Homo sapiens: one gene and its partners. The protein of the gene in region 2 purifies or fractionates together with the protein of the main gene of each other region. This does not show direct contact. Each region holds a gene or a part of one and is shown on either strand. Other genes may lie near its edges.

Region 1 (3,500 bases), on a different chromosome or scaffold from region 2:
CAGGCTGGTCTTAAACTCTTGGGCTCAAGTGATCCACCTGCCTTGGCCTCCCAAAGTGCTAGATTTACAGGTGTGAGCCACTGTGCCTGGCCTAGTTGTTTTTTTTATGGTTTCCAGATTTTATGTCTTGCTTAGAAAAGCCCAAGAAAATAAAAATATTTTCCTGCATTTTATTCTAATACTTTTATAGCTTTTATTTTCAAGTTAGATTATTTAATCTAGCTGGAATTTACAACTCAATAATGAAAAGACAACTCAATTTAAAAAACATGCAGAGGACTGACTAGACATTTTTCCAAAGAAGACATAAAAATGGCCAATAAGCCCATGAAGAGATGCTCAACATCATTCGTTATTAATGAAAATCAAAACCGCCGGGCGTGGTGGCTCACGCCTGTAATCCCAGCACTTTGGGAGGCCAAGGCAGGCGGATCATGAGGTCTGGAGTTTGAGACCAGCCTAGCCAAGATGGTGAAACCGCATCTCTACTAAAAATACAAAAACATTAGCTGGGCGTGGTGGTGGGCGCCTGTAGTCCCAGCTACTCGGGAGGCTGAGGCAGAAGAATTGCTTGAACCTGGGAAGCGGAGGTTGCAGAAAGCTGAGATCGCACCACTGCACTCCAGCCCGGGCAACAGAGTGAGAATCCGTCTCAAAAAAAAAAAAAAAAAAAAAAAAAGAAAATCAAAACTGTAAGGAGATACCATTTCACATTTTTTGAGTCCAATATATCTCCTTTGTTGACTTATAAGCTATAACTCTTTATTGTGTTATTTTATTGGTTGCTTTGGGGTTTAACTTACAACAGTCCACCTTCAAGGTGTGTTACACTACTTCACACAGTTTAAGAACTTTACAATAGTGTACTTCTGTTTATCCCCTTCTGTTATTGTTGTCATGCATTTTGCTTTTACATAGTTATAAATCCCATAACACAGTTATTTTGTTTATATGACATATAATAAGATTAATAGAGACCCAGCCTTCAAGTAGGATTTATCCTAGGAGTGCAGGGTTGGTTTAACATTTGAAAATCAATAGGCCGGGCATGGTGGCTCATGCCTGCAATCCTAGCACTTTCGGAGGCTGAGGCGGGTGGATCACAAGGTCAGGAGTTCGAGACCAGCCTGGCCAATATGATGAAACCTTGTCTCTACTAAAAACGTAAAAAATTAGCCAGGTGTGGTGGCATGTGCCTGTAATCCTAGCTACTCGGAAGGCTGAGGCAGGAGAATCGCTTGAACTCGGGCGGTGGAGGTTGCAGTGAGCCGGGATCACGCCACTGCACTCCAGCTTGGGCGACAGAGCGAGACTCCATCTCAAAAAAAAAAAAAAAAAAAAAAAAGTAAATAAAAGATCAAGACAGTAAATTTTATGTTTGTTTTATTGCAGTTATAAAAAGTTAAACATAACACTTAACTTGTGATTCAGCCATTCTATTCCTATATATTTATTCCAAGAAAAAGGGAAATATATCCATACAAAGGCTCGTACACAAATATTCATAGCAACTTATTTGCAACAGTCAAAAATCAGAAGCAACCCAACATTCATCAACAGGTGAATGGATAAACAAATTGTAATATACTTATACAATGGAATACTACTGAATGATAAAAAGAATTGAACCTTTGATACAGGTATGAACATGATGAATCACTACACTGAATGAAAGAAGTCAGACAAAAAAGAGTACATACTTCATGATTCCCTTTGGATAAAACTCTAAAAAATGTAAACTCACGTACATTAACAGTGACAAAAGCAGGTAAGTGGTTCTTGAGGAAGAGAAGTGGGACAGGTAAGAGAGGGATTACCAAGGGACAGGAGGAAACTTTTAGGGGTGATAGATATGCTCACTGTTTGTTGTGATGGTTTCACAGGTGCAAACATACATCAAAACTCGTCGAATTCTATACTTTAAATATGTGCAATGTATTGTAAGTCACTTACCTCCCTAATAAAGCTGTTACAAAATATATACAGGTTATTTAAATTTTTATACCTTAAGGGAAATAAGTTCAGTTACTCAAGATCTCCATGTCTTTCTTAATTTTATTTTACTATGATTCTTGTTTTTTTTTTTTTTTTTTTTTTTGGGATGAAGTCTTGCTCTGTTACCTAGTCTGGAGTGCAGTGGCGTGATCTTGGATCACTGCAACCTCTGCCTCCCGGGTTCATGCGATTCTCCTGCGTCAGCCTCCTGTGTAGCTGGGACTTGACAGGCATGCACCACCACGCTCAGCTATTTTTTTGCATTTTTAATAGAGTTGGGGTTTCACCATGTTGGCCAGGCTGGTCTTGAACTCCTGACCTCAGGTGATCCGCCTGCCTCGGCCTCCCATGGTGCTGGGATTATAGGTGTCAGCCACCGCGCCTGGCCTACTTTACTATAATTCTTAATTTTACTTTACTATACTTACTTTACTGTATTGTATTTTATTTACTGTAGCCTTTTATTTAAAGGAAAAAGAACAGAAATGTCTCTTTTGCTAGTTAAAAAAATTTATGGGCTACAATTCTTTATAATTTTTCTGAAAGACCACCAAATAATAATAAACATGAGGTTGGGTAGGTTTCCAAGTATATATAACCCAGAAAATGGTGAATTCATTCTGTTCTTGGCATGATGTTTTCTCTTTTTATTAAGAACTCAGACTTTCCTAAAGAAATTCCAAAAACAAATGGTGAATTGGGGCTATTCTAAAAGTTGCTCTCTCTTCCACAAAGGGTAGTAGAAGCAATACAATGACAGAACAATTTTGTTTTCATATTTAATTTTATCTTACCCATCAATTTGTTGACATTTTGTTTCTGTAGGTGGCCAATGAAGTGCCATTTGATCTCAGGACACAAAGACAGAATCTGAGGGGAAAAAGGTAACCATGTGTAATTCAGATTTTATAGAGGCCTTGCTGGCTCAAACGCCTCGTGCACTCCCTGTCACCTTTCACATCCACTCTCTGTTCCTTAAATGTAATAAACTATCACAATCTTCACCCGGCCTCCTAATGAGGTAAAAGGATAGAGAAAAATCTAAGGCTTCTGTTCTGTTTTCCTTCCTTGTTCCCATCAATTCCCTCCATCTTTCAGATATTGCCCATCTAGGATGAACTGATTTAAGCTTTCAAATCTTGAAAAGATCCAAGATTACAGCAAGCTCCTGAAACCACCATTTCCAAACAGCCACCAATGAGAAAACGACAGTCTGAACAAAGAGAAAAATCTAGCTGAGAATTACTTGGGGCTCAAGGAGGAAGCTGACATTTCTATCCCTGGCCCAATCTAAAGTCAACCACCCTAAAACTGCTGTACAACTCAACCACCAGGATGGGTCTAATTTTCAACTAAAGAGCCAAGATTTAGATACAAATTAAAGAATTCAGCTATCTACTTACTTTGGGATTTGATGCTTTTTCTAGCAGTTCCTGAACCTAAAAGGTCAAAACAGAACAAGTCAGAAGCCTGGCAATCATGATGCTTCCAAAGGGCTTCAGGAA
Region 2 (3,263 bases):
AACCAAAGTGGATCAAGAACTCAGGAAAACTGCCATGGGGCCTCCTCTCAAGGGAGGGGACCCTCAAGCGGTGGCGGCCCTTCCCCACCTCCCTTCTTCCCCTGGCTGCCATCTGCCCCCAACGCTCTGGGCACAGGGCCAAGTGGCAAGTGGGCCCTGCCCAAGCCTCTCTGGGAAATGGGATTTGCAGGCCGACTGGACGAAGGCACTAAAGATGCTACAGGTGATCAGAGGAAGCTCCTCACGCAGAAGCAGCCAGCACCCACGTGATAGGGGGTGGAGCTGGGAGGCGCGGCAGAAGAGGGCTGTTCAAGCAAAACTTTGGCACTGCAGGTAGACACTGAGCATCCCCCCAAAAAACTGGCTTTGTGGGTCCAAAAGTATCTCGCCTGATGAACACTGTGAACTGGAGATCTCTGGGGCAGGGCAGGGTGGGGAGGGGCGGGGCAGGGCAGGGCAGGGCTGCCTCGGTCGGGTAGAATGGGAAGGGGTTCTGCTCTGCTCTCTTACTCTGGGCTGGGAGCTAGAAATGCTGGGTCCTGATTTTGCTTCTGCAGTGATTTAGTCATGCCTCTCCAGACCTCAGTTTGACAGATGACCACATCTGCCCTGGGTTTCTTCAAGGGAGAAAACAGATTTGGCAGTGCGTGAAAAAAGAAAAAAACATTACAAATGCCGGAGAGGCACAGGAAGCAGCTCTGCCTGGCCCTTGGTTACCTGCCTCCCTATGGGACCGCTGCATGCTATGCTCAGAGCCCTCCAGGCTGGCCCTCGAGGCCACCTCAGCTCCCGTTGCTCCATAAGCTCTATTCCCCAGGGGGCAACAGCTTAGAAGAGGGAACAGGGCTCTGTGTCAACCACCAGGACCCTGGCATTCTCCTGTCATGGAGATGCAGCTGTTGAGTCCAGGGCAGCCTTTGGTATAGGCTGCTGTGGGCTGGAGGGATGGTGGGTGTGGGAGCAGCCACGAATGCCCCCTCACCCCCCTCACAATGAAGCCACTTGGCCACCACTTAGCCAGCTTCTATCTCTTCCCTGCCTGGTTTGTCTTTTACAGAGGGGAGGGCACAGGCACTGAAGTCAGGCAGGCCTGGACTCAAATCCTCTTCCCTCTTCCTCCTGGCTGGTGTGTCCTTGGGCACATGGAGCGTGAATTTCCTCATCTATAAAGGGAGGTTGTGAGGGTCAAAGCATGAATGCAAAGCGCCAAGTACAGTGTTTGGCACCCACGAGGCACTCAGCAAAGGGGTGCTCACAAGGGCACGACTTGTGAATGGGCCTCTTATTCAAACAAACTTTGAGATTCTTGCTTTAGGTAGGCAAAAATGAAATGCTCCAAGTTGGGGTGGGAACTCTCATTGAAAAGCCCTGGAGGGACCGGAGCCTGCAGCAGCAAAGCGCAGCATACGCGGGGCTGGAACCACCCTTCAGGGCTGACCACGGTCCCAAGATAGAAGGTGGGAGGCAGGGCGGCTGAGCGGATCTCCAGGCCCACTCCTGGGGGAGCCGCATCCAGTGGAACCTCAGAGGCCCACGGGCCTGAGGCTTTGGGGAAGGGGACACTTTCCCTGGAACTGGTAATGGAATGCATTTCTTCAGGATGAAGTTCCTTCTGGTAGCAGGCAATTTAGGAGGAGTGAATAAAGCCACTGGGCTTTTAGAAACATGAAGAAGTTGGAGCAAAAGTCATCATGGACTGGGTTGGCTGCCCCTTACTGTGCCATGTCCAAGCCATGAGAGACCCTTGCTGGAGTTTCTCCAGGCAATGGGATCCAGTCCTGGAGGTCTTGGAGAGTCTTGGTCCCACTGCTGGGTGGCAATGCCATTGGCCAGGAGGAGTTCTCTTAAGGCAGGGATGCTGACATGGACAGAAAGCAAAGGCTGTGGGTTCTGAGCCTCCAGTGATGCTGTGATAGGAGGGATCAGGCCCAGGGGCGCCCGAGGTGTCCGAAACTCACTCTCCACCCATGGGAGGCAAGAAGTCACAGTACCCCAGAGTCTGTCTGCCTTGGAAGCTGCGTGGAGAATGATAAATTAAGAGGCGTATTAAATACGTGGGTAAAGCCAGCAAGGACCAGCGGGCCCTCTAGGCAGAAAGGGAGTCGGCTACGGCTTCTTTCTGAGATAGTTGGAAGGAATCCACCCTTCCCAGGAAGGGGCTCCGCTCAGGACCTGGCAGAACCACCAGCCACTGCTGTTCTTCTCCCGGACTTCAAACACTGTCCCTTCCTGGAAGCTGCTGGTGTCTTTGTCTCCTTCAAAGTCGGCCACGGCCACATACAAAGAGTCCTTCAGGCCGTCGGCATTGGGGACAGAGGCTGCAGCTGCTTTCTCCCTGTTTTCTCCAATCTTGCCGGTCCCCCATGGCCCCAGGCTGCCTTTGCCTCGCGTGTCATCCTGGCCCCCCAAAGAGTTGGAGAGAAAAGGTTTGGCTTTTGGAGGGACGAGGAGAGCACGGCCTGGGGTGGGAGCTGCCCTGCTTTCGTGGCCTTCACACTGTGGACCTCTGACCTCTGGGAGCGGCCTGGATGACGAAGAGGTTTTCTTTGGGGGAGGTGGTCTGCGGGGTGGGACCACAGGTCTCTGCTGGGGAGCCTCTTGGAGAGGAACAGGCACGCTCTTAGACACAGGATCTGTGGTCTTGGCTGGCCTCGGAGGGGCTCTGCAGGAAATCTCTTTTGGGCTGAGACCATCCTGTTTGCCCGTCCTGTCCTGGGCGCGGCCAGGCCCCTCTCCTGGGAGGAAGCTTCGGCTGAAGGCCACGTCTTGGCCCCCTACTGCCTGGGGGCCCTCCCCATCCAACAAGGACTTGTCTTGGGACTTGGCAGGCCTGAGCTTACTCCTGAGGTTGCAGATGTCGACTTGGTCTTCGCCCTGAGGTGGCTCCGTTTTGGGGGAAGGAGCTGGTTTTGGCCTAACCTGAGGTCTGGACTTCAAGAAGGGATTCTGGGGAGTGGCATCTGGCTTCTCCTCTGGCAGGTCAGTTTTGGATTTGGAGATGGGCCGGAGGTTGGGCTTCTTCACTTCCTTGGCCAAGACCTTGTGGCCACACTCCAGCCCCATGTCATTTTTCAGCTGGAACAGTCTGCTTTTGTCAGGTTTGGGCTCTGGCCTCCTGCTGTCCCGGGCTGGAGGGATGTGTTTGGCTGGCATCATCGGCAAAATCACGCCCGGAGGCTTGGGAGTGGGGCCCCGGAGCTGCTCCGTCCTCTGCCGCTCCCGCTCCCGCTCCAGCAGCTCCCCCTCCGACTTGATGATGGATT
Region 3 (3,135 bases), on a different chromosome or scaffold from region 2:
ATTTTTTGAGTGTGACAATGATGCTGTGGTTTTGTTAAAAAGATTTATCTGCTAGAGATACATTTTAAAGTACTTACAAGTGCAATGATGTAACACCTGAGATTTACTTTAAAATATTCCAGTAGGGCCGGATATTGTAATCCCAGCAGTTTGGAAGACCAAGGCAGGAGAATCTCTCAAGGCCAGGAGTTTGAGACCAGCCTGGGAAACACAGCAAGACCATATTTCTACAAAAAATTTAAAAATTAGTTGGGTGTGTTGGTGTATGCATGTAGTCCCAGCTATTCAAGCGGCTGAGGCAGGAGGATCACTTGAGCCTAGGAGTTCGAGGTTACAAGGAGCTGTGATCGTACCACTGTACTCTGGCCTGGGTGACAGAGTGAGATCCTGTCTCTTAAAAAAAAAATTACAATTAAATACTTCACCAAAAGAAACAAACAAAAAGTAAGGGGTTAGATGTATTAAGAACGGTAAAGTATTGATATTTGTTGCAGCTGGGTGATGGGTAGAGTTTCATTATTCTATTTTTGTGTATGTTTGAACATAAAGAAATGTATGAATAATATTGAAATTATTCAATATTCCATAATGAAAAGTTAACATGCCAAGAATCTCAAATTATGGTGAACACTCAGTGGGGACTGCATATTGTGAGTTATGTCTCTAGTTAGTTAACAGATAGTAGAGACCTGGAAAAGCTTGTATGTAGCCTTTTAAACATTTCTTCTCAGATACATACATGCATATATATGTATTATATAAAATACATATTCATACACATATGTGCACACACACAGGATGGCTTCATGGACATGCAACCTGTGCAGTTGCACAAGACTGTGCTTAGAAGCACCCCACACCTAATTTTTGAACGAGGGCCGTACAGTTTCATTTTGCCCTTAGTCCCACAAATTATGTAGCTGGCCATACACACACATGCACACATACCACATACCCACATGTATATATGCATATATTGTGTACATATGTATATACATTGAATATATTTAACATAAGTGTTAAGTATGCATGTGAATTTTATGTATGTATTTATGTTAAACATGTACGTATTTAAATAACATGTGGTTTAGTGATAAAAATTCCCTAAAAGGTATGTTTCTAGGGAGGCAATTATATTAAAATGGCTCTCAAAATTTCTGTGTGTGTGTGTGTGTGTGTGCATTTTAATTAGCAAATAAGGTCCCAGGCTCTTGCCCCTGTCCTCCTCTGAGTAAGAGGATACTTTTTACTTTAATTTTGAGGCCAAGAAAATATATACTCACAAATCAAAAGAAGTTGCTAAGAAATGCTATATTCATTTAATAAGAGTAGGAATATATATATCTTTTTTTTTCTTTTTTTTTTTTGAGACTGAGTTTTGCTCTTGTCACCCAGGCTGGAGTGCAATGGCGTGATCTCAGCTCACTGCAACCTCCACCTCCTGGGTTCAAGCGATTCTCCTGCCACGGACTCCCGAGTAGCTGGGATTACAGGCGCCTACCACCACACCCAGCTAATTTTTGTATTTTTAGTAGAGATGGGGTTTCACCATGTTGGCCAGGCTGGTCTCGAACCCCTGACCTCAGGTGATCCACCCGTCTCGGCCTCCCAGAGTGCTGGGATTATAGGCGTGAGCCACCATGCCCAGCCAGAGTAGGAATATTAAAATGAGGTCAGTAAAGATAAGGCTACATTCTCACTAACTGGCCACATCATTTAGTGTTTCTTTTGAATATAGCCTCATTAATCAAAACCAGATATTGTTTTTTTAAAAAAAGATTTCTCTCTACGCAGAACATTTCCAAATCTACAGAAAAGTTCAAAGAATAATACAACAAACACCTGTGTACTGTCATCTAGATTTACCAATTGTACAATGGCTAATATTTTGCCACATGTGTGCCCTCTTTCTCTCTCCATGTTGATTTTTGCTGAACATTGAAAGTTGCAGACATCATGACACACTTGGCCTCTAAATGTTTGTGCATGCATTGCCTAAAAAAACATTTTTGGCTGGGTGCAGTGACTCATGCCTGTAATCTCAACACTTTGGGAGGCCAAGGCAAGTGAATCACCTGAGGTCAGGAGTTCAAAACCAGCTGGGTCAACATGGTGAAATTCCGTCTCTACTAAAAATAGAAAAAATTAACCTGGAGTGGTGGCAGATACCTGTAATCCCAGCTACTCAGGAAGCAGAGGCAGGAGAATCACTTGAACCTGGGAGGCAGAGGTTGCAGTGAGCCGAGATCGTGCCACTGCACTCCAGCCTGGGCGACACAGTGAGACTCTGTCTCAAAACAAACAAACAAACAAAAACAAAATAAAACAAAACAAAAAGACATTTTCTACATATACTATTATCACACCTGAGAAAACAGTTATTTGGCATTGTTATCTAATATGCAGTCTATATTCAAATGTTCTCAATTGTCCCGAAGATATCTTTATAGCTGTTTGCTGGGTTGTTGCTTTCTTTTATTATTATTATTATTTAGATATGATCTCACTCTGTCACCCAGGCTGGAATGCAGTAACATGATCATGGCTCACTGCGGCCTTGACCTCCTAGGCTCAAGTGATCCTCCCACCTCACCCCCCCAAGTAGCTGGGACCACAGATGCACACTACCATGCCCAGCTAATTTTCTGATTTTTTGTAGAGATGAGAACTCACTGTGTTGCCCAGGCTAGTCTCAAAATCCTATGCTCAAGCCATCCTCCCCTTTTGACCTCCCAAAAATGCTGGGATAACAGGCATTAGCTACTGCGTCCAGCTTTTGTCTTTTTAAATATCCAGAATACAATAAAGATTCAAACATTGCATTTGGTCATTGTATCTTACAAGTCTCTCCCCTTTTTTTTTTTTTCATGACACTGACTTTTTGAGAAGCCCAAGTCAATCATCTTATAGAATGACTACATTCAGGATTTGTCTAATAATTTCCTCATGATTAAATTCCAGTTTAACACTTTGTGCAAGAAAACTAAATAGGTAAAATTCTTAAGTCACATCAGGAGGGGCATAATGTTAGGGTGTTCCACCTTGGGTGATGCTAAATTGAATCACTTGGTTATTGTGGTGACCATTGTAAAGGTACATTTTCCCCTGTATAATTGATACCTCTTCTGTAGGATT
Region 4 (3,500 bases), on a different chromosome or scaffold from region 2:
ATTGTGAAAGAAGAACAGATAAATCCCATTGTATGAAACAGTATGTAGAACAAGTGAAAGGAAAAGATGAGACAAGACAAAACATTAAGGTTTTAAACTTACATACCTCAGAGAATGAGGTCATTATCAGAAAGAGGAAACATTAAAGGAAGAGCAAGTATCAAGAAATGATGAGCTTGCTTTGAAGCACTCAGAGGACACGATGGGGAATCTCAGCAAGCACTGGGAGATGTATCTGGAGTGATGCAGAGATAATAGTGATAGAGATATTTGGGAGTCTGTATTCTACACTAAGGTAATACCTGATGCTAAGAATGAATAACCACCATCAGAGCATGTAGAGAAAACAAAATTCCAAGAGCATAACCTGCCTACTCTTTAGTGGGCAGGAGGGGAAGGCATGGTACAAATAAGACAGAAGTAGCACTCAGGTCAGAAGAGAACTATGAGATCACAGAAAGATATCAAAAAAGTGCTCAACAACATTATCGAAATGCTGAAAACAAATGGGAGTGATTTAAAGACTAAGACAAAGCTTTTGGAATCAGAGACTGGGAATCTACTAGTGAATATTAAGAGAGCTTCAGATCAGTAGTAGGAATAAACACAGAGAAGCTAAAATAACTTAGATGTAAGTGCAAGTTGAAAAATGAAGGTTGGGTATATTTTCAGGTTACGGAGAAGGAGCAGAAAAAGCCTAAGTAAAGATATACAAGACAGGATACTTGAAGGAACAAGATATCATGGAGAGGGCAAAAACAGGATCAAGGAAATGCAACTAAGGATACATAATACAGAAAAAAATGAGAAAAACGAGATTTGGAAGAGGTAAGAATGGTAAAATACAACACAATTTTGTGACGGGAGAAAGAAGAAACATAAAGAAGCCCAGAGAAATCTATTTTCCTGATGAAATGAGCAACAGTATAAAAAGTATTAAATAAATATTAAAGTGAACTAACCTGAGATAAAGAGGGAAAAGATTTAAAATGGAAACTTAAAATACTGTAAAAAAGATCTGGAGTAACTACTTTGGGAAACCCTAGAGGAACAACAAAAGATAATTAAAGAATCATTGAGCAGCACGAAAGGCACATATAAGATAGTCCATTAATTTCCCGTGGGTTTACCTGGACTAGGGTCAATGTTTGCTAACAGCTCCAAATGGGGTCTTAGTCGGTTCAAGTTTGCTGGGTCTCCAGTTCGCTGGAGAGCAATTGTTAGTTCCTGAACACTCTGTGCAAAAGAGGCTGGAGTCTGCAACTTAAAAAAGATAAATGTTAACTTTCCCAAAGGTCAGATAATCCTTTAAATATAAAGATTATTTATATCACAATCATTTTTGCGATTTATTAAATTTAATTTTTATCTTCCCATATACCCTACACTTTGGCCAGAGTAGATTACTTGCTACCCAAATAAATTCTGTACTTCTCTGCATCCAGAGCTTGGCACATTGTGTACTGTATTGCCTCTGCTGTCACATTCTTCAAATGTGAGACCTCTCTCAATTCAGCCTACCATCAATTAGATATACTGATGAGTCTTCTTTGTGAATTGTTAATTCCTGTTTCTCTCCCCATTAATTTACTAGAATTAGTGCTTTCCTCATCGCTTTTAATAAATTCTCTTTTCTATTATCCAATATGGTGACCTTGGCAATATGTGGCTATTTAAATTTAAGTTAATTAAATGAAATAAAAATTTCAGTTCATCCGTTGCAAAAGTCACATTTCAAATGCTTAATGGCCGTGTGTGACTAGTGATCACCATATTGGACAGTGCATACACAGAACATTTTCATGATTACAGAAAGTTCTATTGCTCTATAAAATATCACACACACTGCAAAGTTTACCAGTTTGTTGTGCAAAGGTCTCTGGATATTAAATTTAAAGCACTGCGTGTGATATGAGAAAATTACTGTAGGATATACACCTAGTTACACAGTTCAGTTCAGACAAGATTAACCACCTTGTAGAATCTTTATAAAAGACAAGCCAAGCCAGGCCAGGCACAGTGGCTCACGCCTGTAATCCTAGCACTTTGGGAGGCTGTGGTGGGCAGATGACGATGTCAGGAGTTCGAAACCAGCCTGGCCAACATGGTGAAACCCCGTCTCTACTAAAGATACAAAAAATTTGGGCGTGGTACAGGGTGTGGTAGTGCGTGCCTGTAATCCCAGCTACTTGGGAGGCTGAGGCAGGAGAATCGCTTGAACCTGGGAGACAGAGATTGCAGTGAGCCGAGATAGTGCCATTGCACTCCAGCCTGGGTGACAGGGTGAGACTCTGTCTCAAACAAACAAACAAACAAAAAAAGCCAAGTTTCTCTTCAGAGGTAGAAAGGTACTCCTCTAATAGATCATTACTAAGCGTTAAGCGTTTCCGTAAATTATAAATGAGTTGCAAAACTTCCGATACAAGCTCCTGTCCAAACCTAAGAGTTGCAGGTAAAGTCTGGTTAAAGGTATCCAGGGAAGACTTATAGAGCAGAGCAAACAACCTACATTGTAACTGAAAATTATGTACCGCCTTTTTATCCCCCCTAAAGAGACAGGGTCTCACTCTGTTGCCGAGGTGCTAACATAGCTCACTGCACCCTCAAACTCCTGAGCTCAAGGGATTCTCCCACCATAGCCTCCCAGGTAGCTGAGACTATAGGCGCCTACCACCACACCTGGCTATTTTTTTTTTTTTTTGGTAGAGATGAGTGTCCCAATGTTTCCCAGGCTGTGACTGAACTCCTGGCCTCAAGCAATCCCCCCACCTTGGCCTCTCAAAGTGCTGAGATTACAGGCATCAGCCACTGTGCCCACCCTACACCAAGCATTTAAAAAACATATTTCCCAATTCTCACTGTATTACCCATTCAAGGAATTCTATCTTTAGAAATAGGAAAAAAAAAAAAAAAAAAAAGGTGGGGGGGAATAGTCTGGTAAAAGGTTAGTGTACTCTACACTGAGAATGGTCAAGTTCAAATCCACTTCTGTCATTTATTATCTATGTGATGCTGGAAAAACATATTAACTTCCCTTTGTCTTTGTCTAAAATGGATAATACAGGGCTGTTGAGAGGATTAAATGAATTATTTAAAACCACTAGATACATATTAAGATTTTAGTAAATGTTCATTATTTTTTTTTTAGGTTACTCTTACTATTTGACTCTATTTCTCTAAATTAAATGTAGAGTGGTCTCTAGAGTTGGCCTTCATCTCTGTGATTCTAGTAAAAATACAATAAAATATAAAATAAGTAAAATAAAAAATATAAACTAATCAAATCTTTAAATGAACAAAGTGGTATTATAACGTGATTGGTTATGACATGACACTGGCTATAAATACAATTTACAAAAGCTATACAGTATTCACTTTAATATACATTTGTTAAATGAATTACCAAAATGCCAAGATTAGTCTAAGAAGTAAGGAACAAAAAAGGTCCTACCTTGTCAATAATGGACTGCATATGAGATTTGTGAGACTGGTCTCCATAA

Evidence for each region.
Region 1: the proteins of SH3PXD2B (region 2) and PLPBP fractionate together in Homo sapiens (co-fractionation; one large-scale study listed by BioGRID). This does not show direct contact.
Region 3: the proteins of SH3PXD2B (region 2) and EIF2AK2 fractionate together in Homo sapiens (co-fractionation; one large-scale study listed by BioGRID). This does not show direct contact.
Region 4: the proteins of SH3PXD2B (region 2) and RC3H1 fractionate together in Homo sapiens (co-fractionation; one large-scale study listed by BioGRID). This does not show direct contact.

The regions. Positions count from the first base shown.
Region 1 is NC_000008.11:37,765,645-37,769,144, reverse strand, and holds part of PLPBP (pyridoxal phosphate homeostasis protein), read right to left. Parts: intron 3,435-3,500; coding exon 3,399-3,434; intron 2,866-3,398; coding exon 2,790-2,865; intron 2,664-2,789; coding exon of another isoform or gene 2,611-2,663; exon of another isoform or gene 1,367-2,610; intron 1-1,366. UniProt on the Homo sapiens protein: Pyridoxal 5'-phosphate (PLP)-binding protein, which may be involved in intracellular homeostatic regulation of pyridoxal 5'-phosphate (PLP), the active form of vitamin B6.
Region 2 is NC_000005.10:172,336,263-172,339,525, forward strand, and holds part of SH3PXD2B (SH3 and PX domain-containing protein 2B), read right to left. Parts: coding exon 2,107-3,263; 3' UTR 1-2,106. UniProt on the Homo sapiens protein: Adapter protein involved in invadopodia and podosome formation and extracellular matrix degradation. Binds matrix metalloproteinases (ADAMs), NADPH oxidases (NOXs) and phosphoinositides.
Region 3 is NC_000002.12:37,101,846-37,104,980, forward strand, and holds part of EIF2AK2 (interferon-induced, double-stranded RNA-activated protein kinase), read right to left. Parts: 3' UTR 1-3,135.
Region 4 is NC_000001.11:173,977,358-173,980,857, forward strand, and holds part of RC3H1 (roquin-1), read right to left. Parts: coding exon 3,452-3,500; intron 1,264-3,451; coding exon 1,131-1,263; intron 1-1,130. UniProt on the Homo sapiens protein: Post-transcriptional repressor of mRNAs containing a conserved stem loop motif, called constitutive decay element (CDE), which is often located in the 3'-UTR, as in HMGXB3, ICOS, IER3, NFKBID, NFKBIZ, PPP1R10, TNF, TNFRSF4 and in many more mRNAs.